Regions from separate parts of the Homo sapiens genome. Here region 1 is linked to region 2. Evidence: fine-mapped QTL for protein levels in blood plasma. A gene starts in region 2. The other region holds a variant in brackets. All regions are shown on one strand. Distances are from middle to middle. Region 1 overlaps PIP5K1C (phosphatidylinositol-4-phosphate 5-kinase type 1 gamma). Region 2 holds the start of GIPC3 (GIPC PDZ domain containing family member 3).

Evidence for each region. PIP is the posterior inclusion probability: the model's chance that the variant is causal. Protein levels are from antibody-based Olink assays in UK Biobank. Linkage for the fine-mapping came from a reference panel and not from the study's own genotypes, which makes the PIPs less certain.
Region 1: its variant is fine-mapped to the plasma level of the GIPC3 protein (UK Biobank, PIP above 0.99).

Annotation. Positions count from the first base shown.
Region 1 is chr19:3,664,354-3,667,246 of GRCh38, forward strand. PIP5K1C (phosphatidylinositol-4-phosphate 5-kinase type 1 gamma) reads right to left here. Exons shown (of 18, transcript NM_012398.3): 3 at 469-561. Among named protein-coding and RNA genes, the nearest start is that of PIP5K1C, 35 kb to the right of the region's middle. RefSeq lists an enhancer at 914-1,744 and a silencer at 1,674-1,783. The variant C/T (reference allele first, on the strand shown) is at 1,557.
Region 2 is chr19:3,584,271-3,587,163 of GRCh38, forward strand. It overlaps GIPC3 (GIPC PDZ domain containing family member 3), which reads left to right and starts at 1,208. Exons shown (of 6, transcript NM_133261.3): 1 at 1,208-1,552; 2 at 2,225-2,410; 3 at 2,544-2,724. The coding sequence starts at 1,328.

The DNA of each region.
Region 1 (2,893 bases), 80 kb after region 2:
AGTATATGAATCACATCTCAGTAAAACGGTTACTTTTGAAAAAACAGGCCCTAGGTGGGGGTGGGAACAGAGTGGGGGTCAGGCTTCCTACCAACACGGTGTGAGCCAGGCCAGCCTCAGAGTGTCCCATCCACTGCCCGAGGTGGTGGTGGGGTCCATAACCCCTCTCCCTCACCAGGGCCGAGAGCCCAGGCTCTGCCCGAGGTTTCAGGGACTCAGAGCCGGGCAGGCGTTGCAGCCAGGCTGAGCCACAGAACATGCTGCCCGGCCGCCCGGCAAGGACAGCAAACAGTGGGGCCTCATGCAGGACTGAGGACTCCAGCCTCTGCCTCCACACAGCCCACACCTGTCCCTGGGCAGACCCTGGTTTGTGTCGGGGGCGATAGGCCCCATCCATGCTACCAGTGGGATCCCCCTCCCCTCTGCTCTGTCCCGCTCCCTCCAGCCAGCTAAGGGGAGCCGAGGAACCTTCTTGTAGGTGGTTTCGCCGGATGCGTCCACACCTCGATGGCCCAACTTCTTCCCATGGCCAGGGCCCGGCTGTGCCGTCATGGACAGAACCTGGGAAGAGGAAGCAGGAAGCGTTAACTCCCTAAGGAGCACGCCCACCGGGACAGGGCACGCTCTGAAACCCTGGGAAGAAAGGTTTAGTCGTTGGGCCCAGCAGGGGTGCACAGGGCAGGGGGCAGGTCCAGGCGACTCCGGGGTGCAGCAGGAGGCCCCTCACCCGTGGGCGCCTGGCGGGCTGGCTGGGGCCCCTCAGTGTCCCACACTGGACACCCAGAAGCGCTCACTCCAAGGTGGAGACCTCTGCCTCCTCAGGAAGGGCAAGAGGATTGGGCAGCTCCAGCCCTCTAATTCCAGGGTCTCCCCCAGGTGCTGTGGACACTGGGGCTGGACCGTTCTTTGGGGTGGGGCCACCCTGGGCACAGCAGGGTGCTGAGCAGCATTCCTGGCCTCCACCCACTCCATGCCAGGAGCACCTCCCAGTTGTGGCAACCACAGATGTCCCCACACAACTCTGCAAATGTACTAAAAGTCACTCACTGCACACTTCAGAGAGTACAGTATGCAAATCACATCTCAGTAAAGTGGGTATTTTTTAAAAAAACAGGACTGAGGTGGGGGTGGGAACAGAGCGGGGGTCAGGCTTCCTGCCAACACGGTGTGAGCCAGGCCAGCCTCAGAGCATCTCACCCACCGCCTGAGGTGGTGGTGGGAGTCGTAACTCCTCTCCCTCACCAGGGCCCCTAACTGTGAGACCGCTGGGATGGAAGGATTGAAAAGACCACCTTGTCCCTGAGGGAGATGGTCTCACTGGCCAGGGTCAGGCCCGGCTCCTGCAAGCTGTCGGGCAGCGCGGGTGTCCCAGCAGATGGGACCGCCGACCCCAGGGGGCCTCAGCTTGTTGCCCTCGAGGGAGGATGTGAGGAGGGGCCTTGGGAGCCTGAAGGGACACAGAGGCCAACCAAGGAGAACAGCCCCGCCTGGCACCGTCATTTAAGGAGCGCCACTGCGTTTGCTAGGAGACCCCATGGACCCTCCACTGGCCAGAC[C/T]CCATCCCACCGCTATCAGCCCCAGGGACACGCCTGCAGCCCTGACCCCTGCCCCTGCCCTCCCTCCACAGCCGACGCTGCTCAGCCATGTTCCCTGCATTCTCCCAGGTGGCCGCCAGGGGGCAGGCTCTCCCCAGGAATTCACCCCGCCACCCGGGCCACCCTCCACCCGCGCCACCCTCCACACTGCCCCCACGCCGGGGGACTCTGAGGAAGGATCCCAGGGTCCCAGGCCTGGTGGACAAAGCCCTCCAAGCTCTGGCTACGGACGCAGGGCCAAGGGTGGCCCAGGTGGGACAGGTGCCTTGGGGACTGCTCCTGTGAATGGGGCTCATGGACAGGTGCCCTGAGGACTGCATGCGGGAAGACGGGAGATGCAGCAGCTCGGGTGCCCTCAGAGGACGGCCCACCCCACTGCGCCCACTGGGGCTGGGAAGAAGGCCACTCGGCGCCACGGGGCTGGCAGAAGCTGCAAAGGCAGGGCCAACGTGCAGAGAAAGCTCTCGGGAGGAGACGGGCAGCAATGACAGGACCCATGTACATGCAGATGTGCACACACACAGACAAATATGCACACAGGCAAACACACGTGCAGACGTGCACACAGGCAAACGTGTACATACGCACGCAGGCAAACAGGCACACAGGCAAACACACATGCACTCAGGCAAACATGAACACAGGCAAACACGTGCACACACGCACGTAGGCAAATGAACACAGGCAAACACGTGCACACATGCACGCAAACATGCACACACACAAACGTGCACACACACAGGCAAACATCCACACAAGCAAAAATAGATGCACACACGCACGCAGGCAAACATGCACACACACAAACGTGCACACACGCACGCAGGCAAACATGCACACACACAAACGTGCACACACGCACGCAGGCAAACATGCACACATAGGCTGCACACAGCCTCACTGTGCACTACGCCTGTGTGGCTCACAGACACTGAGGGCGTGGGTGCAGCTGGTAGCCTCGGGCATCGCCCTCTGGGCAGCGTCTAACCCTCCAGCCAGGTCTTCCATTCCTGCCCCCAGTCCCCCGGCGAGAGCTGCTCTCTCCCCACCGCCCACCCCCCAGAATCCAGGCTCCACGTGGCCTGGAACCCAGAGAAGCCCTTCCTGCCCCTGCAGCCCTGACCAGGCACCCCTGCCACTGAGGGTGTGGCCCCTCAGATGCAGGGCCCCCTCCTCCATCACGGAATTTCACCCCGACCTCTCAAGACGCAGTTGGTGTAGACCTCACGTTCATCCTGCTTGTGGACACTGGACGGCATTTGGGGCCCAGAGAGGTGTAGTGAGCTGCCCCAGGCCAC
Region 2 (2,893 bases):
CAAAAAATTAATCATGTTTCTAAATTAAATTTTAAAAAACTGAATGCGGCCGGGTGCGGTGGTTCACGCCTGTAATCCCAGCACTTTGGGAGGCCAAGGCAGGTGGATCACCTGAGGTCAGGGGTTCGAGACAAGCCTGACCAACATGGTGAAACCCTGTCTCTACTAAAAAATACAAAAATTAGCCAGGCATGGTGGTGTGCGCCTATAATCCCAGCTACTAGGGGGGCTGAGGCAGGAGAATCGCTTGAACCCAGGAGGTGGAGGTTGCAGTGAGCCGAGATCACGCCATTGCACTCCAGCCTGGGCGACAGAGCTAGACTCCGTCTCCAAAATCAAACAAACAAACCAAAGGCTGGGCGTGGTGGCTCATGCCTGTAATCCCAGCTTTTTTGGAGGCTAAGGTGGGTGGATTCCTGAGGTCAGGAGTTCAAGACCATCCTGGCCAACATGGTGAAACCTCATCTCTATTAAAAATACAAAAAAATTAGCCGGGCATGGTGGTATATGCCTGTAATCCCAGCTACTGGGGAGGCCGAGGCATGAGAATTGCTTGAACCTGGTGGGCAGAGGTTGCAGTGAGCTGAGATCGTGCCACTGAACTCCAAACTGGGTGACAGAGCGAGACTCCAGCTCAAAATAAATAAATAAATAAAAATAATAAAATAAAATAAAACAATGACCTCGCCTAGCAGAGGGTGAGTGCTCCAGCACCCTCAGCTGTCCCTGTCCTTTTTTTTTTTTTTTTTTTTTTTTTTGCGACGGAGTCTCGCTTTGTTGCCCAGGCTGGAGTGTAATGGCGCCATCTCAGCTCACTGCCACCTCCGCCTCCCGGGTTCAAGAGATCTCAGCCTCCCGAGTAGCTGGGATTACAGGCGCCCGCCACCACGTCCGGCTGATTTTTGTATTTTTGGTAGAGACGGGGTTTCACCATGTTGGCCAGGCTAGTCTTGAACTCCTGACCTCAGGTCATCTGCCCGCTTCGGCCTCCCAAAGTGCTGGAATTACAGACGTGAGCCACCGCTCCAGGCCTGTCCCTGTCCTTATTTGTGGTCCCTGTTCTTCCAGGGTCCTGAGCTCAGGCCCCCCCGGACTGCGGGTATCCCCGGGGAGGGCACAGCTGGCCCTGGCAGGGCCCGGACACCTGGGGCCCGACCCACCCCTGCGCACCCCGCGGTGTCGCCTTCCCGGGAGGCTCGGGTTCCCAGATCCCCTTACCCGGGCGTCTCGGCTGTCGCGCCCTGGGCCGGGGGAGGGGAGGCTGCAGGAAGCGGCGGATCCGGCGGCGGCGGCGAGGGCCCGGGTGGGTGGCCGAACTTCTCCCGCCATGGAGGGAGCAGCGGCCCGGGAGGCCCGGGGGACCGAGACCCCGCGCGCGTCTGCGCCCCCGCCCGCGCCCTCGGAGCCCCCGGCCGCGCCCCGCGCCCGCCCGCGCCTCGTCTTCCGCACGCAGCTGGCGCACGGGAGCCCCACGGGCAAGATCGAGGGCTTCACCAACGTCCGCGAGCTGTACGCCAAGATCGCCGAAGCCTTCGGGATCGCGCCCACCGAGGTAAGGAGCCCGGACACCGGCGCCCAAGACCACCCGCCTGATGGGGTGAGGGGTAGGGAGCTTGGACCCTGGACGGGAGACCCCAGATCCCCGGATCCCAGACGTCGGGGTGGCCGCCTAATCGCCGGATCTCAGAGACCCAGCCCTCAGATCCCGGGGTGCCACACTCCCAGGGGCCCCCTTTGCACGCTCTGCGCAAAAGATGGGCAGGTCTTAGGACTAGCGGACCCCTAGATATTCCAGAAAATCCTCTGCGCAGACCTAGCTTGGAGCGGACCCCAGCCCTCGGGGAAGCGCCTCTGTGCTTCCTGGGCGTAGCTGGGGTCTGGGGTTCCAGATGGCCCCCTTAGGGATGGGAAGTTTGAGGCCGCCGTGGGGTTGGGGGGTTCCTGGGCGTTTTTCCAATCCGGGTTCGTTTGGTTTGCAGCCCCCAGGGGGCGCCAGCAGATTAAACCTGGAGGTCTGGGGGCTGGAGGTCCCGGGGTATGGAGAGGGGTCTCCACCTGCTGGAAGTCTCCTTCTCCCTCCTCTCTCTGTTCTGGGGGTCCCACGCCCTGCCCTTTCCCATGGGCTGGGATCCTGGTCGCTGGGGGCAGGGGCCTGCGCAGACAGGGTGGCTGCGTGGGGGGATGCATGCCCTGGCTAACTCTAGGCTCCTTCTCCCCCGGGAAGATTTTATTCTGCACCCTCAACAGCCACAAAGTGGACATGCAGAAGCTCCTGGGGGGTCAGATAGGCCTGGAGGACTTCATCTTTGCCCACGTGCGAGGCGAGACCAAGGAGGTGGAGGTCACTAAGACAGAGGATGCTCTGGGGCTGACCATCACGGACAACGGGGCTGGCTACGCCTTCATCAAGGTGCCCGGGAGGGGGTGGGCGGGTGGCTTCCTGGGGTCCAGCAACTGCCCCCCCCACTCTGGGTCGACGTGGGTTCTGCGGATTGGAGGCGGGTGGCTGGGGTTGCCCTGCCAGCGACGCTGGATCCCTGCAGAGAATCAAGGAAGGCAGTATCATCAACCGGATCGAGGCAGTGTGCGTGGGTGACAGCATCGAAGCCATCAACGACCACTCCATTGTGGGCTGCCGCCACTACGAGGTGGCCAAGATGCTCCGGGAGCTGCCCAAGTCCCAGCCCTTCACCCTGCGCCTGGTGCAGCCCAAGAGGGCCTTCGGTGAGGCGGGTGGGCTGGCGGGAGCTCTTCCCGAAGTGCGTTCTACGGATGCCTGGGGTGGAGGAGGGTCGGGGATGGGACGGGCTGGAAGGTTCTAGGTGCACCCGCTGCGTGCCAAGGAGCTCCTGGCAGGGTATCAGAAACTCGTAGGTAGTTTCTATTAATAGAT